Linked DNA regions of Homo sapiens: all the other regions are linked to region 1. The links come from fine-mapping of genetic effects on gene expression. A gene starts in region 1. Each other region holds a variant in brackets. All regions are shown on one strand. Distances are from middle to middle. Region 1 holds the start of ESRRB (estrogen related receptor beta). Region 2 holds the start of LOC105370575 (a long non-coding RNA gene). Region 3 overlaps ESRRB (estrogen related receptor beta). Region 4 has its middle 71 kb from the start of GPATCH2L.

The links. PIP is the estimated chance that this variant, and not a neighbour inherited with it, causes the effect.
Region 2: its variant is fine-mapped to the expression of ESRRB in skeletal muscle (FUSION, PIP 0.95).
Region 3: its variant is fine-mapped to the expression of ESRRB in lymphoblastoid cells (GEUVADIS, PIP 0.95).
Region 4: its variant is fine-mapped to the expression of ESRRB in prefrontal cortex (ROSMAP, PIP 0.90).

What each region holds. Positions count from the first base shown.
Region 1 is chr14:76,374,184-76,379,333 of GRCh38, forward strand. ESRRB (estrogen related receptor beta) reads left to right here and starts at 1,954. Exons shown (of 7, transcript NM_001379180.1): 1 at 1,954-2,268. The coding sequence starts at 2,219.
Region 2 is chr14:76,307,985-76,313,134 of GRCh38, forward strand. It overlaps LOC105370575 (a long non-coding RNA gene), which reads right to left and starts at 2,435. Exons shown (of 4, transcript XR_001750833.3): 1 at 1,841-2,435. It also overlaps a transcript of ESRRB not described here. RefSeq lists an enhancer at 1,838-2,451. The variant T/G (reference allele first, on the strand shown) is at 2,728.
Region 3 is chr14:76,489,005-76,494,154 of GRCh38, forward strand. It overlaps ESRRB (estrogen related receptor beta), which reads left to right. Exons shown (of 7, transcript NM_001379180.1): 6 at 2,443-2,712. Among named protein-coding and RNA genes, the nearest start is that of ESRRB, 120 kb to the left of the region's middle. The variant C/T (reference allele first, on the strand shown) is at 2,044.
Region 4 is chr14:76,220,573-76,225,722 of GRCh38, forward strand. It overlaps a transcript of GPATCH2L not described here. Among named protein-coding and RNA genes, the nearest start is that of GPATCH2L, 71 kb to the left of the region's middle. The variant A/G (reference allele first, on the strand shown) is at 2,396.

The sequences.
Region 1 (5,150 bases):
AACTTTAGATGCTAGAGATTCTCTGGTGAACAAAAAGAGACATGGTCCCTACTCCCATGGAGCTTACAGTCTAGTGAGGGAAGGGTGGAGGAGGGAATTATCACTCATGCCAGTACACAGACAATTGCAAACTGTGATAAACTACCCAAAGCAAAGGAACCACAGAAGATTCTGGCACTATATGGAAGGTGGGGCCTTCTAGGTGGCAGATGTAAAGACTGGGGCCCAGAGGGAAAGCAGCAGGGGCTGTGGAGAGGAACAGAGGGACCTGCAGGAAGCTGTCATAGGATGCCTTCCTTGGAGGCCAAGGACTGGGGCCTTTTTCCTAATTGCAACAACGGGACATTGGATGTGCATTTTACAAATCGCTCCCTGGCTGCTGTGTGCCTGGAGAATGGATTTCAGCAGGGCAGAAAGGATGCCGAAAAACCAGTCACTGAGGTCCTGGTGAGAGATGATGGTCATATAGAAGCCAGGCTCAAGGGAAGCATCCCTGCACCCCTCTTTCTGTCTCTGATGAAGTACCTATGTGATTTTTAAAAATCGGGGGCTGCTGGGGGGCTACTGACAGAGGAGACATCTTCATCCATCTCTCTGTGAGATGCCTTCCTGAGCCTTGCGCCCAGAGAATCCCACTTGTTCCTCCACTTCAGCACATATGAAAAATCTCAGCTCTGTTTCCCAACCTGCACGAGCACATTTATCCAAGTCAAAAATCATCTGCGATCCTTCTGCCCACTCTCCCAGCCCCTGCCCAGGCGGCTGGCCCCTCCTGGGGTTTCTCACAACCCTCCCTGCCTTTATTCCTGAAGTGCTTGAACATTGCCTGCAGTTACACTCCATTTAGACATTATTTTGATGATAAAATTATGTCTTCCCCCCTACTGCTCATTGTCTTCTGCAGAATATAGGAGAATAAGGTGGTGGTGTCTCCTGAGGGCTTTTCCCCCCTTTTAAATAATTCTATACCTACCCCCCTCCCCACACTCATTTGAATCATCAAATTGATTATTATCCCTGTGGCTGGTGCATCTCAAAAGATGAAAAACCCAGAAGCAGGGCTGGGGCATGACTTACAGCTCATTTTGGTACAGTGGCATCCCATAATATTCGGGTTCACTGAGGGAGCAGCGGACGGGGATGCAGGTGCGTTTGTAGCTGGGGATTCAGGTGTGTATTTCAAAGTGTGTACTTGTGCCTTGGAGTGGATGTGGCGGGTAAGTTGATCATTTTCACCACGATTGTATTTTCCTAAGCAGACAGGAATTTATTTGCTCATGTCTGTGTCCTGGGTACATTTCAGAGAGCTGCCAATGACTAGAGCATCACTTCATACATTGAGAGAACGTTTTATAGATGCGCACCCTGCATCTAGCCATATGAGAGTGGTGCAGAACTGACTGGCCCAGGTGATGAGAACTGGGAAGGGAATCTGTTTCTCTCCTGCCTTCTTGCTGTGCCTCACCTGCTGGCCTGACCCTTTGCACTTTTGCGCACACAGCGCAGGGTTTGAGGCTGCCTCTTCTCTTTGGTGCGTGGGTGGAGAAATGTGACTCATTTTTAATTTGGAAAACAGATCCATTCCAGAAAGGCTGAGAGGTGAGTTTGCTAGACCTGCCAGTTAAAAGATGGGATAGGGGTGGCCCGGGGGGTATGTAAGCAATAAATCTCCCCCCACCCCAGACCCACCTGGCGGTTGGACATTCCCCCCCACCCCCCTTTAACTGCGAGAAGGCAGGCCTTAGGGCTCTAACACCCAGTACTCCTACTGCTCAGGAGGTGGGGACCTCGCGCGCTGAGCGTCTCATTCCATGAAGTCTCTCTGTCTCACCCCCTCCCCCCACCCCAGCTTGATTCTGTCACTTTAAGTCCAGCCCCTGAGAGATAGCCAATAGGAGCCAAACTATACATCAGTCTCCCAGCCTTAAAGCTACAGTAGGGTTAGTGGGCTCCAAGTCTCTTGTGCCCCAGCCTCCTCCACGGCTTCGCATCCCCTCTGCCCGCTCTCTCCGGAGCGTGCGGATGAGTGGAGAGCTGGGCTGTGCGCGCACGGCTCTCTGCCTCCCTCTCCCCCGCCGCGGCCGCCTCCTCCCACTCTGCGTTCTCGCGCTCACTGTGCCCTGCCCGGGCTCGCACCTTGCCCGTGCCCTTCACTCGCTCTTCCGCGTGATTTCCCCGCCGTCTTTCTCTACCAACTGGGAATGCTAAAACGGGACTGATGGACGTGTCCGAACTCTGCATCCCGGACCCCCTCGGCTACCACAACCAGTAGGTGCCCTGCTTCTCGGTCTGTCTGTCCTTCTGCCCGTCTGGCAGTCTCTGTCCTGGGGATCGCAGTTCCTTTTCTGCACATTCTTGTGTAAAAGTGGAAGGGACTTCGGGGGGGCACTTGGGGGACGAAGGAGGGGAAAAGCCGCACACTTCTGGGTTTCTTTCTAGGGCATAAACCCTCCTCTAACTTTTTCCCGCACCCCCTTTTACAAATCCACACTTTCAGGCAAGAGTGGCGCTTTCTCATGCACTTTCTCCCTTTCTCTCTCCTCTCTGATCTTGCTCCGGGGTGAGAAAATATTTGAGTTTTTGTGGAATGGAGCAAGAAGGGAGGCAGAAGCCCAGAACAGGTGCAGGGATGTGGTTGCAAGGATGTCCTGTCCCGTCAGAGAAAGCCTTTCCCGCGGGCGCTTTGTTTTATTATTTCCATCCTGGGGACCAAAAATGATCCCGGCAAGAGAGAGAAAATCGAACGTGCCGCGGCGGTTTGGAAACTGCAGGCGGCCAGTGCCGCTCTCGCCTCGCGGTCTCCGTGGGGCGCCCCGAGGGTGCGCACGTGGCGCGGCGGATCCAGGGCGCCCGGGGGATGCGGGCCCAGCGCTGCGTCGTAGGCAAAGTTCGTTCTCGGCTTTGGGGGAGGCTGTGACCAGCGGAACAGAAGGGCACCATTTCCCTGCTCCGAGGCGGCTTTGCGCTCGCGGTGCCAGAACCTGGGGTTATCCGAGCGGCGTGGGCGCGGGCGGCAGCCGGCGCCGCGAGAAGCGACTCTCAGAAACCGCGGGTCTCCAGCCCCGGGGCAGCGCGCCAAGAGCGCAGAGTGGGAAAGTGAACTGATCGCCTAAGCAGCGGGTGGTCAACCCGCGTGTCATGTCCGGGCTCTCGGGGATCCCACTCTATCCACCTACGGTTTCCCTCCCGACACCCTCCACGGTCGCCGCTCCACCTGCTCGGGTACCTGCCCGGGTCTCCCCTTGGGCGCTGCGCACCCCACGGCGCCCCCGGCGGGTGTCCCGGAGGCAGGTTGTGTGCGCGTGCAAAGTGGTCCCTCGGAAGGCTTAATAATAATAATACATAAAACTCTAGGTTCTTACGGACAGCTTTCCTGCTTAACTTTGTGCTCGTCTTCCTCTTTTTTTTCTGACGCAAACTAAATTCTCCAAGTCAGCGTTTCTCCAGTTCCACCGTGCTTTCATTTGTGTACCACTCGCTCTCCCCCTCCCCCCAAGAACCACGACTACATCTCTAAAATAAATACTCTGGATCATGTGGGGTCCCAGGAAGTACCTAACCCCTCTCCTGGCTGCATGGAGCACCTCCACCACGGTGCACCCCGCTTGAGAGAGAGGGCAGCTGTCCACAGCATGGCTTGTGTTGTTGACCAGACTGTTCCTGCTTCTAGTTTGGGGATTTTCCCCACTCCACCCTGGGGCAGAGGGCCTTTTAGATGCCACCAGAATGTCGGCAGAAGGCGCTGGTCTGGGAGAGGAATCCTTAATAATAATGGATTCCGATTTCCATCAGCTTGAAAAGTGGCTTTCATTCCTTTTAAAGGTTAGATTCTAGCTGGGGTGGGGATGGGGTGGGAGCACCTGAGGTTAGTGAGGCTGTGGACAGTATTTGGTGCTTGTGGAGCATTTCCTTACATAAAATGATCAAGTATGACAAATATTGGATATTTAAATTATTAAGGCTCCCTCTCTCCAGAGGTGACTTCTTTAGTTGAGCACGAAATACTTATGTATTTGTCCCTGGCTCAAGTCATAGTCAATAAATATGAAAATTCGTATGAAGGAAGTACATTCTTTGATTATGCTTACCAGGAAAGCAAGGAGTGAGATGGAGGCTTTAACAGCTGGGTAATTCATCGAGTTGACGGCAGCCCTGACTGGAGTTTGAGGAGAAATATGGGCAAAAAGGCAATGTCAGGGAAGCAGCAGAAGGAAGTCAGGGAGCTGAGGTCCTGGGGGTCTGGGAAAGGTTTGAGATAGAAATCATTTATAAACTAAGCCTGACAGAGGTTTAGATCCCCAACCCTTTCCGGTTTTTTTTTGCAAAGAATTAGCTTGTCCCTCCATGGGGCACAGGAAAAGCCAAAAATATACCTGCTGTCTCCACCGAGGAATTGAGCACCCCTGTCAGATGTCATTTCTCAAAGCCCAGGACCCACTGGGCAGCAGCCCAGGCATTGATGAGCTGGCCTCTTATACATATATGTGCCGCCTAGGGAGGGTCTGCATGTGCTGTGGCGCAGAGGGGCATCATTTCAAGGACGAGCTTGTGGAGGTCTGGGGCTGGTGTCTGGGGAGACATCTTTCTGACCTCTACCCCATGGCTTTGTGACACAGCTTTAGAGCCATGGGTAGTAAAGTAACAGAGCAGGGGACTGGATTCTTTGGTTTGGTAGAAGGATAGTAGGACAAAGCCATTCATTATAGTGCCGGCATTTCCCAGGGAACATACAGTAAGTGGGTTCGTGTATGCTCTGCTCACTGTTTTGACCCCTGTGGATTGGCTGACATTCCCAGACTTGAGAAAACCCAAGGGCACAGGGACTAGAGTTGAGGGAGGAGGAACTCTCTGGTCCTCCCTTTTGCTTCTAACACATAGAGAGCATTTGTTAATGCTGTAGAATCATTCTCACTTTCCCAGGTGAGAAATGAACACACACAGAGAGAAACATACGTACCTTCCTACCTTGCTCTCCTTCATTTTCATTTTCCTGTAGCCAATCCTGTAGGTGACTCCATTACCCATTCTAATCAATATTTTATGTACATATATAATCACCCAGAGTGGGAGGCAGCGTGCTCGCCTGTGTGTGCCTGTGTACAAATGGGTCCATGACTGGACCAGCTGGAGACCCACGGCAAACAGTCCAG
Region 2 (5,150 bases), 66 kb before region 1:
AAAACTCCAAAAGTCCCCATGCGGTCTTCTCTTCCTGACCTCTGACCTCTGGCCAGCTCTGTGGCCAGAGCACGCCTTGCCGTGGGGTACTTGCCCTGCCAGTGCCGCTTCCCGTTTTTTGGGAAGAACCAAGGCAAGATCGAGTGATGTGGCTCAGGTAGGCAGGACACTGGATGGGCCAGGCATTATTCTAAGCATCCTTTTGTGTTGAGTCATTTTGTCCTCATGACAATCCTATGAGATAGACACTTAGAATTCCCACATTGCAGATGAGGAAACTGAAGCACAGACATACTAAGGAATTTTTCTAGAGTTTCCCAATAACAAGCGGAAGAGGCAAGATTCCAACCCAGGGAGTTCCGATCCAGAGCCTGTGCTTAACAGCCCCATCTGACAGGCTCAGAGGTGTGTGTCCGGATGTGCATCTGCTCCGAGTGGACTAGCAGGCCTGGCCCTTGAAGCTGGAGAGGTTTTATGATGAGAAAGTGAGGCCATGATGAGTCTCCTGCAAGCAAAAGCCTGGGGTCTCCTAAGATGATGACCTGCCATTCGAGAGAGCCCCTGTGAGCAGAGAGAAATGCCGCTGGTTATCAGCTGGTCCCAGCAGACCCCTGCTGCCCCCAGGCCAGCTTCAAGGGGGCAGACACCAAGGCTTGGTTCAGTTGGCAGAGTTGAGAACCAGACTGTGAGATGATACAGAGGTCGACCTTGAGATAAAAAGCCAAAACAAAGGTGCCACAGGGGCTTCCTAGGGAGAGGGGTGGCTGGGTTCAACCCAAACACTGACCCCTTCCTACAGACAGGGTGCTGTGCTAGGGGGCTGTGGAAGCCCTAGGAGGGGCTGCAGGATGTCTGCCAGAGATCAGCGAGGGCTCGGTAAGAGTTGGAGGAGAAAGAAAATCATGGAGGGAAGTCCTCAGTTTGCATCAGAAGAGAAAGGTTTTTCCCTGGGAAGGAGCCTGGTGGTGAATGTGCGTGTAAGTGGCTATAGCCCCAGTCATCAGAATGGGAGTCTCTCTAGAGCCCTGTCTCTGCAGGGTTATCTGCTTTTCCAGCAACTAAACTTGCAGGGAACCCTGTGTGTGGCCAGGCCTGAGTAGACAGGAGTGCCTGGTGGCTGACCACTGGCATCACTGGCCTGGTACTCAGAAGGGCAGTGGTTCTCAGATAAAACTGCGAGTGAAAATACAGCAGTTTGACTATATCTGCCTGAAGTCTCACTCCCAGTTCTGGGCCTTCCTAGGGACACTCTTATGATACAGACATTTCTAGAGAGTATCTTACTTAGTCCAAAGGAGTGGCTCAAATGACAGTATCTTAAGTATCACTCTTTCATTCAATTAGTCAGTCAATCAATCCATACTCAGGAGGGTCTTGCTACAGATCAGGTATTATGGGGATGTGATGATGAATGAGACAAACACATAGTCTTTACCTTCTTGGAGCTCATATTGCAATGGCAGGCTACTGGTGGAAAGATTGGAGGCCCTACACGTTTAATAGGTTTTTGACTTCAACAGCTTAGATACCACCCCATCCTCATAGTTTCTGATAACCTGGAGAGTAAAGGATTAGATCTAACATGAAGAGGAGGTTCAACTTCATTTCTTTTAAAAATTGGGGATCAGGAAGTTTTAGGGATTATGAAGTACCTGTCCCTTATCCATACCAGCAAGGGGTTCATCCTATGACCCCTCTTGAAGGGGAAACTCACCTGAAATTCTGCCTCATTTAGCATGCACAAGAAATCCAGAAAATCAAGACAGGTGACCCTGTGTAGTCAAAGCAAGTGGGTCTCCAGATGGCAGATGGGAAGCCCCCTGGGGTAATGCATGCTCACCTGGTTAATTGTTGAACAGCCCATACTTGTGCCGTTTCACCATGATTCTTCCAACTTCCAGAAACAGCCCCTTGGCTCAGCTTTCAGAGCTGGACTGGCCTATCCCAGAGAGGCGGCCCCAACTTTGTAGAAACTGGGACAGGCAGTGCTTCTTAGAGACCCTCCGGTACCCCAAAGAGCGGGGCTTGTTCTCCAAAAAGGAAATCTTTTCAGACGACTTGACGTCCTAAATCTTTCTGGAGAAAGCAGAGACATTAACACCCCCAGGGCCTTTCAACTTCAGGCCGTTCTTCTGTTGGGAACGCCATCTCTTGGCCTCTTCAAAGACCTGGCCTCACCAGGCAACTGCACTTCCTCTCTCACCCTCCAGGAGCCTTCTGCATGGCCCCCAAGAAGCCTGCCTGGCCCCTGAGCTGGGAAAGCTGAATTCCCTCCCTGCCTCCTAATTTGGCAGGAGGAATGGAAACTTTCGTGGAAAGCACTTGAGCTGACGAATGCTCCCAAGTCAGGACTTTGACTCGGGCCCTGACAGGGCCACGGGCTCAGGATCCGGAGGGGGGCGGCTCTCCTTCTCCAGGTCAGGACCTCCTGCCCTGGCTCCTCCCCTTGCTTTCTGCCGACCATCAGTCACCAGCTCCCCTGTGACCCCAAGTGACGGCCGCACACCACTAGAGAAGTCATTGTCTTACACATCCCCCCTTTTCACTTGCCCTCCCCCAGTTCCTCCTCCCCTTCATGGTGTATTTTTCTTCCACACTTTCCTGCGTCCATCAGTGGCTGTGGAGTCTGCATGGGGCTGGGTGGAGTTGGAAGTCTAGAGCTTTTTGCTGTTTTGTTTAAGACCTGGTTATGGTTGTGAGACTTTTTTTTTTTTTTTTTTTTTTTTG[T/G]CAGCTGCCTGTTATATCAATCACGGAGTCGGGATCTATTTATAGGTTGGGAGTACTGTGTCCTTAGTCACAAAGAGACACAGACAGGGGACTGTCAGCTGGTACCGGAGGAGCGGAGCAACGAGTTATCAGCAACTGAAAGCACCTGAGGGGCCGCACATTCCACCCCAGCCCAGTCCTCGTCCTCCACGCCAGCCCCAAGCATGTGAGTAACCCAACTTCTCCCTTTCTCCTCCCCAGACTCTGCGGGTCCTTTTCTGTCCCCTTTCTCTCTCTCTCTCTCTCTCTCTCTCTCTCTCTCTCTCTCTCAATGGATAAAAATATCTCCCCATGCCTGTTCTTTCATCCTGGTTTTCCGCACTCTAAAGCATCCCTGTGTGGCCGAGAGGAAAACGTTGCCTTTCTTAGACTGTCACAGGAAGGTCAGAGGGTCTCTGGATGGCTAGGTGGGACGGTGACACAAACTCATTTGGAAGCAGTGAGTTCCCTTTGATTTTTGTTTGTTTTCACTGAGAAAAAAGTAAGTACATCAGAAGGGCAAGGGAAAGTTTACATGCAGCTCAGCAGGGTAGCGATGTCGCCCAGCGTGAAAACTTTTATTTGCTGGCAGCTCCGGTGTAGGGCAAGCTGGGGAAGGTTACCCAAGAAGACCCAGTGCCCACAGGACAGGTAATGATGGGAGCTCCTGGAAGTTTTGGTTTCAACCTGGGAGCTTCCAGGTTCAGGGAGACTCCCCACAGTCCCGATGACCAGTTTTCTATAGCACCTTAAAGTAAATGATTTTCCCTCTCCCCTCCGCGGAGCAAGTTTGCTTTGAGAAGTCACGATGAGAGCTGAGGATTTGTCCTGCCTTACAGGCTGTCATTGGCTCCCTCATTTGGTGTATTTTCTTAATCCTGAAAGGGAACTTGGCTGGGGACTGGGAGGAAGAGTCCCAGGCCAAAGCCAGGTGTGGAGGGAGGGCTGTTGACTGCTTTGCTCTGCATCCTTCGCAAAGGAAGAAACTTAATATCGTGAGGCTTGTCAAAGCTGTGCTTGTTTCAGACAATTCGAATAGTGTGCCGGCTCTGAGTGCACCTCGGGCGGCTCTAGATGGGGCCTTCCCGGCCACAGTCCTGTGTCCACGGGGCTTACCTGCCACGAGCTTCCCGTGCAACGTTTGGGACTTTAGTTTCTGGATATTGAATAGTATTCACCCGAAATCCTGTACTTGGGAAGATTTGCTTTATAGAATTTACAAAGGAAAAGTAGCCCTACATTTTGAAAAAAAAAAAAAAAAAAGTAATGATGCCTAATTTATACTTAAGTACAACTTTTTAAATGTACCTTTTTTTTTTTTTAACCATGAGTTTCTATTTATCCAATGGATACCATATGCTATATGACTGAGGACTCCTTGATTTGTTTGGGAGAACAATATCCTACAAAGAAACAATCTTTCCAACAATTTAAAAGCATTAAACAAAGCAGATATGCCTGTATTATTTTTGATTGATTACAAACAAAAATAGTTTTACCAGCATGAAACCAGTTAGTTTCATCTAACTCGATGAAAGTTAAATAAATATGGATATACACACGTATGTTTAGAGAAGCAATTTGATATCATTTTTATTTTGACTGTTCTGAAACTTTAACTTTCCTTTTTCTGGTTCCATGTTTTCAGCTGTATTTTGTTTAGGGTTATTAATATCTTTAATCCATTCATTCATTATTTTGGACGGGAGAGTGGGGATCAGGAAGCAATGAGAAATTAGAAGGCAAACGTCCCATGTTCAGCCAGTAAGACCGCATTCAGTAGTGGAGAAATTCAGAACAAGGAGTATGGCGTACAAGGGGGTAAATGTCACTATTTAAGATCTAGTATAGACGGTGAAGTCTAAGAACTCCAGAGGGGGACAAACGCCAACTAGGAGTTAAAGTGTCTTATACATATAGCATTATTATTCTTCCTATTATGAGGGCCTCTATTTTGGTAAATATGTCCTGCTAAGGTTTTTTCACCATAATGCTGAAGTGGGATTTGGTGGATTATTGTTAATTAAAGCTCAAGTGAATGAAGTGATTGAGACATTGCATTCAGAAATCAGAGAAGATTGCTATTGGCAAAGCTGAACTTCTAGGACTTTCAGATCTCAATGGCTTTTGAGAAAAAATGTGGCTTTTAAAAATGCCTTTTAGTACAAGAACAAATTCTACCTCCCCTCCCCAACCTGCACACTGGAGCCTGCCTGGCCCACTGTGCAGGCCCAGTGTGTCAGGATTAAATGCAGTGGGAGAGAGTCCCGCATTCCTGAGCAAGTCCTGTGTTCTCAGAGCCTTAATGGTCAGACAGAAGAATATTTTGTTGGGACATTTAGCTAAAAACTGCCTCTTCCCTGGGCTACGTGTAGATCCTTTCAGGTGAGATAGGGGCTTGTCTG
Region 3 (5,150 bases), 110 kb after region 1:
TGCTCTGTAAGTTTTTGCTGAATGTCTCAAAGGGCAGAAAAGCATTCTAGTAACATCCTAATGATTGTACCTGCAGGATTCACTGCACAGGGGACTTTTCCCCTGCGTTTCCAGAAGCCTAGTCCTTACCTCATCCTCTCTCTCCACCACCTTCCAATTCAGTTGTCTGCTAATTTCACCCCTGCCCTCCTCCTCCATCTCCCCTCCAGTCTGTCTGCTTTTAGACCCCCTCCCTAGAGCTGTCCAACACTCCCCCCAACACACTCTCCGGTGCTGGCTGATTGGTATCTGTTAATTAATGTTGCCCAAGGCCTCTCTCCTACTCAAAGACCTGATAAGGGAAATTGGATGTCCATTTCTATCTATCTTTTATTACCTCCCAGCTCCCCCGGCCACCACAGGCAGCCACACACCCTCTCCCATGCAGGGAATCTGGACAACCACACACACACACACACACACACACACACACACACCCTGATCCCCTGTCACAGCCTCTCCCCTGAGAAGGTGCATCAATCAAAGCTCCCCCGTGTCAGTCGGTGTAATCACTCCTGCTCTTTTGTTGATCACCCATGGATTCCATTAGCCAGTGGTGATCTGAGGCCCAAGTTGTATAGATCAGTCTTGGGAACTGTGATAATTCACTTGGAGAATGCTCACAGGGTAAGGGTGGTCTGCCTGGTCAGGGACCTTCAGCTCCAGGAGTGACCCCTAAGGTTCAACTGCCATGCCCTGTGTGGAAGCCAGGGAAGAAGTGGCATTTGGAGACAGGACAGCAGATGGATGGGGGAGACCACACAAGCCAAAGAGCTGGGTGGTCCAGAAGCTCAGGACCACCCAGGCCTCCAGGCAAGTCCAGAGAGGAGAAGTGAGTGATGCCAATGGTGTGCCAACAACAACAACAATATTTAGTAACAACAGCCACAGCCATGACCAGCACCCTAGCATGTTGAGTGCTGATGGCGCCGGGAGAGGTGCCCAGCACTGTACATGCATCTTCTCTTTTCGCCCCCACAGCACCCCACATCAGAAAGTGGCTTCCAGCCAAGGATGGGGTCTAAGTCAGCAAATGAAGTAGAAAGTCCTTCCTAGGCAAAATTACCCCTGAAAAAAATCCCTTCATGTCAGTTACCCATAGTGCATGGTGCAAACAACTTTGTGGATGCCCTTCCTTCTTTGAATAAATCCAGCATGTCCGTGTTAGAACCAATCACTGAGTTTCTGTTTGAATCTCCAGTGAAGTTACTGCCTTGTGTTTGGTGGTTAAGATGCTTGAAAATCAGCTGACTTATTTATTTACTTACTCTCTCTTACTCTCCTATAAATCAAGATGTTAATTGACTTTGCCTAATTTAAGTGCATGTATAATGCAATTCCAGTACATTATCATTGTTCTGCAGTGAGAACTTTCATCTCATCATTAGTAATAATAGCTCAGTAAATACTTTGTATATTCTGGAATCATCGTCTCATTTAGACCTCACAGCAACTCTCTGAAGTAGACCCTACTATTATACTATTTCCTAGATGAGGAAGCTAAGGTTTGGAGAAGTTGCATGGTTTTCACAAGTTCAGCCTACAGCTAGTAAGCGGGAGTCAGGGTTCAACCCAGGCAATCCCCACAGTTCACTGGGCAAGACAGTGTCACAGTTCTGGAGCCTTCTCCATGCCCAACTTTATTTTCACTGTGGAATCAGCCTCCTCAAATAGCAGGGAGGGGGGAACTAGCATGATTCCAAGCTCCCGGAACAGGCCTGCTGGGTCATCGTTAAGCAGAGAGTTATGGCCCGGGAAGAGGGGCTCCGACCCTGGGAGAGCAGGCTGTCCTGTGAGAAAGTGCCCCTGACCCCGGGGGCTCTTGATCTCTTAGCAGCCCCAGGCTATGGTCACTGGGGCCTTCCCCTGTGGCTTTGAACAGCTGCGTCCTCGTTCTTGGTCAGGCCCGTGGGTCTCTGCACAGCTGAGACTGCATCAAGGATCAGGTGTCATTTTCAAATACCAAAGCCTCCCCTGGTTTGAGCAGAGAGTGGGCCCTGGAAA[C/T]TCCCCAGAGTGGCCGAGAGCACGTACTGCTGCCTCCTGGTTCCAGTATGTACTCAGTCACTCCTTTAACTACAAATGCATTGAATTAAACAAAAAGCCTCTACAGACGTTTGGAAAATACCATAGAGCTAACAATCATAATGATAACAACAACTGTCAACATTGACTGAGCTCTCATTTTGTAAGTCTTTTCCGTGAATTCCAAGTCTGAGGCATTCCCCAAGGGGAGGACAGTGAGTCTTACGCTACACAGGGAAAGCCTGGGGGCAGGATCCAGGGGTGCCAGGGACACCCCGCAACCAGCCACGCCCTGCAACCTCTGCCCCCAGCGAGCCCCAGGGAGGCCCCTGGTCCGCCCTCCTGACCTGCTGCTGCCCTCTGTGCCCCCTCTTCCTGCAGGCTTCTCAAGCCTCTCCCTGGGGGACCAGATGAGCCTGCTGCAGAGTGCCTGGATGGAAATCCTCATCCTGGGCATCGTGTACCGCTCGCTGCCCTATGACGACAAGCTGGTGTACGCTGAGGACTACATCATGGATGAGGAGCACTCCCGCCTCGCGGGGCTGCTGGAGCTCTACCGGGCCATCCTGCAGCTGGTACGCAGGTACAAGAAGCTCAAGGTGGAGAAGGAGGAGTTTGTGACGCTCAAGGCCCTGGCCCTCGCCAACTCCGGTAAGGGCGGCGGCGGGGCCTGGAAGGGGAGCTTCTAGGGCTCTGCATGGGCCTAATGAGCCCATCCCTGGGGCCTGTGGGCAGGGCTGGCTGCCATGGATAGAGATGAAAGGAAAACACTGAAACTTTTTATTACTGAAGATTGTCCAAGGGGTGGCCTGCAGATAAAAAGCTGGTGATGAAGGCTGACACTGGCTGAGCATTTCCTAAGCCTCAGACATCCAGACTGGCACACTGGCTAAGGACATGGGTTCTGAGGCCACATTGCTAAGGAGCAAATCCCACGTCTACCAACTGGGCAAGTTGCTTCACTCTGTGCCTCAGTTTCTTCATCAGTAAAAGGAGGGCAGCCAAACAGTCCCTACTCTACAAGGCTATTGACAGGATTTCTTTATACATAATTATATTGCTTGCAACATGCTTGGCACATAAAAAGCACTCAATTATTTATTTATTTGTTTATTATAGACGGGGTCTTGTTCTGTCGCCCAGGTAGGAGTGCTGTGGCTTGATCCTAGCTCACTGCAGTCTCAAACTTTTGGGCTCAAGCCATCCTCCCACCTCAGCCTCCTGAGTAGCTGGAACTACAGGCATGTGCCATTATTCCGGCCAATTCTTATTTCTATTTTTTATGGAGATAGGGTCTCACTATGTTGCCCAGGTTGGTCCCAAACTCCTGGGCTCAAGCAATCCTCTCACCTCAGCCTCCCAAAGTGTTGGCACTACAGGTATGAGCCACCACGCTCAGCGTCAACTTATTAAATTAGCTAGGAGTTTATTGAATTCTTACAAACAACCCAAGAGTAAAATTCTTATTGTTGCAACCCCATTTTACAGATGTGGAAACTGAGACCTGAAAAAGTAAAGAAAATCACCCAGGGTCACACAGTTAAAAAGTGTCAGAGTTAAGAGTCAAACCAAGGTCCTCTGATTCCAAAATCAACCTGAACCTATACCCACTCCTTGAATCTTTCAGTCAAATTTCTTGAACACAGGAGGATAAAACCTTCCCAACTGAGTGGTTTAAGCTGGAGTTACAAAGGAGGACTCACTCCATTTCATTAGCATCCACCAACTTCTGGCTAGATTATCTGAGGAGAGAGGCAGGCGTTGGGTAATGCCAGTAAGTGAACTTGAATGTAACCAACATCCACACTTAGAGAGCTTCCACACTATTCAGGGAATGGTGCTGGGTGCCAGGGGGCTGCAGGAGAAGGATAAATACAGGGTACCCTCCCTAAAGAGAACACATGCCAGGAATCACACACATAATTCTGTTGCAGAGCAGTGTGTGGCAGAGTTAACTGCCCAGGTCTGGGTCAGATAGACCCAAGTTCAAATTCTATCTCTGACACTTCCTAGCAGTATGACCTTGGGTAACTCAGTGTCCTTGTGTGTTCAGTGGGGATATTCTGAGCACCTCTTCCAAGCACTTTATTTTATTTTATTTTTTTTTGAGACAGAGTCTCACTCTGTGGCCTGGGCTGGCGTGCAGCGATGCAATCTCGGCTCACTGCAACCTCTGCCTCCCGGGTTCAAGCGATTCTCGTGTCTCAGCCTTCCGAGTAGCTGGGACTACATGCGTGCACCGCCACACTCAGCTAATTTTTGTATTTTTAGTAGAGACGGGGTTTCGCTATGTTGCCCAGGCTGGTCTCAAACTCCTGGCCTCAAGTGATCCACCCGCCTTGGCATCCCAAAGTGAGGGGATTACAGGTGTGAGCCACCACGCCCAGCCCCAAGTGCTTTTGTGAGTATTAAAGATTGACTGACAATAAAGCACTCAGCCTGGTGCCTGGCCTAGAGGAAATGTTCAATAAATATTAATTATTATCATTACTATTAATGATAGAGGATACAAAGTGTTATTAGCATATGGAAAAGGGAGAACTGGCTCCCAGATGCAGACAGTACACACAGGGTAACCAACTGGTTTGCTCAATACTGTCCTGCTTTTACTGAAAGTCCCATATCCCAGGAAACTCGTCAGTCCCTGGCAAACTGGGACAGTTGGTTGCCCTAGCACATGGCTTCATGGTGCATGCAGGGGGTGCTGTTGATGACCCACTTGGATCCCTTTTACTGGGTTAGTGCATCCATCCCCTAGCTGCTAACAGTTCAGAGGTACCCCTTTGCAGGGCCTACCCTCCTCTGCCTTGCCCAGAGGGTTATGTGGCCCTTTCCTTGGCACCACCAGGCAATGGTGGACCCACATGGGTACAAAAGTTCGGATCAGAGCCCTGCATGGGATCAGGCTGAAGCCGAGGTCCCATCTTTGCCTTGCTTTCTCCTTCCCTGTGCTTCCTGCCTCCCCACTTCCTTTCTCCTGAACACATGCCCCCCGTAAATGTCTGTACCTAAACCCTTGCCTCAGGCTCTGCTCCCAGGGAACCTGATCTAACACAGAAAAGGATGCCACTTTTTTAGTTCAAATCTTT
Region 4 (5,150 bases), 150 kb before region 1:
ATGAATAATAAATTTAACCTAATTAATGTCCATAGAATACTATAACCAGCAGTGTCAGAAGAGGTATTCTTTCCAAGCACCCATTGAATTTTTACCAGAATTTATCATATGCTGGTCTTTAAAGTAAGTCCCAACAAATTCCAAAGGGTAAATCACCTAAAATATGTTCTCTGACCAAAGTGAAATTACTCTAAAAATCAATTTTTTAAAAACCCCAGCAGAGCCTGAAATATTTAGAAATTAAACATTACAATTCTAAATTATTGATAGTTCAAAAATAAATTGCAGTAGATGTTAGACAATATTTGGAACTATATGGCAATTTTTAAATGACATCAAAACTTGCATAAAAAAGGCTAAAAGTCAGTCTAAGTACGCATCTCAAAAAGTAGAAAAAGGATAGCAACAAACCCAGAGATTGGTTCTCTGAAAAGACTAATAATATTGATAAACCTCTAGCAAGACTGATTTAAAAAAAAAAAAGTCAAAAAAATGAGAACATAAGCCCCAGGCTGGGATAAAATGTTTGCAAAAGACACATCTGATAAAGGACTGTTATCCAAACTGTAAAAAGAACTCTTAAAACTCAGCAATAAGAAAAAAAAAAAAGCCCTAAATTAAAAAGTGGACAAAAGATCTGAACAGACACCTCACCAAAGAAGATATACAGATGGAAAATAAGCATATGAAAAGATGCTCATCAGAATAAAATAATAATGAGATGCCATGACATACCTATTACAATGGTGATTTTCCAAAACACTGACAACACCAAATGCTGGTGAGCATGTGGAGCAACAGGAACGCTAATGGGAATTAGCTAATGGGCATGAAAAATGGCACAGCTATGATGAAAGACGGTTTGGCAGTTTCTTGCAAAACTAAGCATGCTCTTACCATACAATCTAGCAATGATGCTTCCTGGTATTTATCCAAATGAGCTGAAAACTATGTCCACAGAAAGACTGCACACAGATGTTTATAGCAGATTTATTTGTAATTGCCCAAGATGTCTTTCAGCAGGTAAATGGATAAACAATCTGGTACATGCAGGCAATGGAATATTATTTAACTCTAAAAAGAAATGATCTATCCAGCCATGAAAAGAAATAGAGGAAATTTAAATGCATATTGCTAAGTGAAAGAAGCCAATCTGAAAAGGCTACCTACAGTATGATATCATCTATATGAACAGGCAAAATTATGGGGACAGTAAAAAGATGAATTGTTGCCAAGGGTTAGATGGGAAGGAGAGGTGAATAGGCAGAGCACAGAAGATTTTTAGGGCAGTGAAAATACTCTGTATGATACTACAATAATGGATAAATGCCATTATACATTTATCAAAACCCATAGAATGTATAACACTAATAGTGAACATTAGTGTATCAACTATGGACTTTGGATGATAAAGATGTGTAACTGTTTTATGATAATGTGTTGATTGTAACAAATGTATCACTCTGGTGAGGAAGGCTGTGCATGTGTGGGGGAAGAAGGTATATGGGAATTCTCTGTACTCCTGCTCAATTTAGCTGTGAATCCAAAACTACTCTAAACTCTATTTTAAAAATAGAAAAAAGGCACAGATTACCAATATAAAACCCCAGAAAAAGCCTGGGATTTTTTAAAACCCCAAACCTTCATATTCTAAGAATGTAATATGAAGAACTTTCTGTCAGCAAATCAGAAAATCCTCATGAAATGGAATTTCTAGGAAAATACAATTTACCAGCTCAAGAGTAAATAGAAGGCTGGGCATGGTGGCTCGTGCCTGTAATCCTAGTTCTTTGGGAGGCCAGGGTGGATGGATCATTTAAGTCCAGGAGTTCAAGACCAGCCTGGCCAACATGTAAAACCCCGTCTCTACTAAAAATACAAATAATTAGCTGAGCGTGGTGGCGTGCACCTGTAATCCCAGCTACTCAGGAGGCTGAGGTGGGGGAATCACCTGAGCCAGGGAGGTCAAGGCTGCAATGAGCTGAGATGCTGCCACTGCACTCCAGCCTGGACAACCGGAGTGAGACCCTGTAACAACAACAAACCCAAAAGAATAAATAGAAAATTTGAATTGTTTATATCTGTTTAAGAAGTTGAATCTGGGCTGGGCACAGTGGCCCACGCCTGTAATCCCAGCACTTTGGGAGACTGAGGCAGGTGGATCACTTAAGGTCAGGAGCTCAAGACCAGCCTGGCCAACATGGTGAGACCCCATCTCTACTAAAATACAAAAATTAGCTGGTCGTGGTGGCATGCTCCTGTAATCCTAGCTACTCAGGAGGCTGAGGCATGAGAATCGCTTGAACCTAGGAGGTGAAGATTGCAGTGAGCCGAGATCGCACCACTGCACTCCAGCCTGGGCAACAGAGTGAGACTGTGTTCAAAAAAAAAAAAA[A/G]AAAGAAAGAAAAAAAAGTTGAATCTGTAACTATAACTTTCCCACAAAAAAATCCCCAGTCCAGATTTTTTTCTTCACCAGCAAATTCTTTTAAACATTTAAAGAATTGACACTAGTCTTATACAAACTGTTTGAAATAATACAAAAAGAAAAATAATTCCCAATTCACTTTGAGGCTACCATAATTTTAATACCAAAGGGTGGCAGGTTCATTACAAGAAAGGAAAATTATAGGCCACTATATCTAATGAACATACTTATAAATATCTTAAAGAAAATATTAGAAAGTAAAGTTCAGTGAATTATTTATTTTAGGAATGCAAGATTTTGGCTTAACATCACAAAATCAGTGTTTTCAACCCATTCAACTGGATTTATTTTCAACAAACTATCTGGGACAACTGGATATCCACATGCGAAATAATGAAGTTGGATCCCTCTTTATACAATATGCAAAATTAACTAAAAACATATCAAAGACCTACACATAAGGGCTAAAACTAGAAAACATTTAGAAGAAAACAAATGCATAAATCTTCATGACCTTGGATGAGGTAATGGTTTATTAGATATGACACCACATGCACAAGCAACTGAAGAAAAAATAGATAAATAAGCCTTTATCAAAATTTAAAATTTTTTGCTTCAAAAAGACACTGTCAAGAAGATGAAACGACGACCACAGAATGGGAGAAAATATTTGCAAATCATATATTGGATAAGGGTCTGATATCCAGAATATATAAAGAACTCTTATGACTCAACAACCAAAAGGTAAACAATCCAATTTAAAAATGGGCAAAAAGACTCGAGTAAGCATTTCTCCAGAGAAGATGTAGGCATGGCCAACAAGCACACGAAAAGATGCTCAACATCATTAGTCACTGAAGAAACACTGAAACTACAAGATGCCACTTTACACCCATTCCTAGACAGTTAAAAACTTATGTACCCCCAAAAGCTTGTACACAAATGTTCATTTTAGCCTTATTTACAATAAACTAAAAGTGAAAACCACCCAAGTACCTATCAACTGATGAATGGTAAACAAAATGTGGTATATCTGTACAATAAAACATCATTCTGCCATGAAAAGACTGAAGTACTGATTCATGTGGCAACATGGATTAACTTTGAGAATATTATGCTAATTGAAAAACACCAGACAGAAAAGGCCATATTCCACTTACATGAAATGTTCAGAATAGGCAAATCCATAGAGACAGATATTGCAGACAGGCAGTAGATTAGTAGCTGCCAATGGGAAAAGGGGAATGGGGAAGGACTGCTAGTAGGTATGAGGTTTCTTTCTGCAGTGATGAAAATGTTCCGGAGTTATATGGTAATCATTGCACAACTTTGTGAATATACTAAAAACCACTGAATTGTACTCTTTAAAATGATGACTTTCAAGATATACGAATTATGTTTCCATTTAAATATTAGTGTATTTCACTACATTAGCATCGTAAGGCAGAAAAAATATCTCAATAGAATGATGCAGAAAAAGCATTTGATAAAATCAAATACTTATTCATAGTGAACACTTAACACACTAGGAATAGAAGGAAACATCTTTAAATTGGTAAAGATCAGTAAAAATCTTACAGGAAATATCATAGTTAATAGTGAAATATTAAAAGCTTTCACCTTGAGATTAGGAATATTTCCTAATACTATTTCTATTAAACATTGTACTAGAGATCTTAACCATTGCAATAAGGCAAGGAAAAGAAGTTACAGACTGCAAAGCATATGATTGTTTATGTAGAACATCCAAAAGAATCTATGGTCAATTAAATTTATTAGAAATAAGTAAATTTGGCAAGGCTACTGGATTCACGTTTACTCTACAAAAATCAATGATATTTTTATATATCTGCAATATTCAGTTCAAAAATGAAATTTAAAAATATTTACAATAGCATCGAAGACATAAACTGAGAATAAATCTAATGAAAGATGAGAAAAAATCTTTACATGGAAAGCATTACAGAGGAAAAATAAAGAAGGTCTAAATAAATGGAGAGATCTGCTGTATTCATGAATTGAAAGCCTCAATATTGTAAAGATGTCAGTTATTTTCCAACTGGTCTACAGAGTTAATGCAATTCCAGTCAAAATCACAGCAGATTTCTTGGGGGAAATTAAGCTGATTCTGAAACATGGAAACATTAGAGACCAAGAATAGAGAAGAGAGTGTTTAAAGAACACAGCTGGAAGACACACTGCTAGCTATCAAGACTTCTTATAAAGTTACAGTAATTAATACCATGTGGTATTGGTGCAAGAATAAACAAATAAAACAGTGAAACAGAACAGAGTCTAGAAGCTGATCCACACACATAGTCACTTAACTGAGGACAAAGGTAATGATGTAGTGCAGCAAGGAAGGGATGACCCGTTCAATATATGGTGCTGACTCAGTTGGATATTCACAGGTAATATACATCTTGATCCCTATTTCCACAACTTGAAAAAAACCAAGTCCATATAGATTGCATAATAAAGATGAAAGTGTAAAAAAGTAAATATTATGGTTAAAAAAAGGAAAGTGTCTTCATTTACTTGAAGTAGGTAAAGATTTAAAAAATAAAATATCAAAAGCACTACCTAGAAAGAGAAAGAAAATGATTACTATAATTATTGGATTATATTAAAGTTGAAATGTTCTATTTATCAAAAGACCCCATTAGTAAAAAAGCAAGCCACAAAATAGGAGATTATACCTGCAACACAAATATTTGACAAAGGA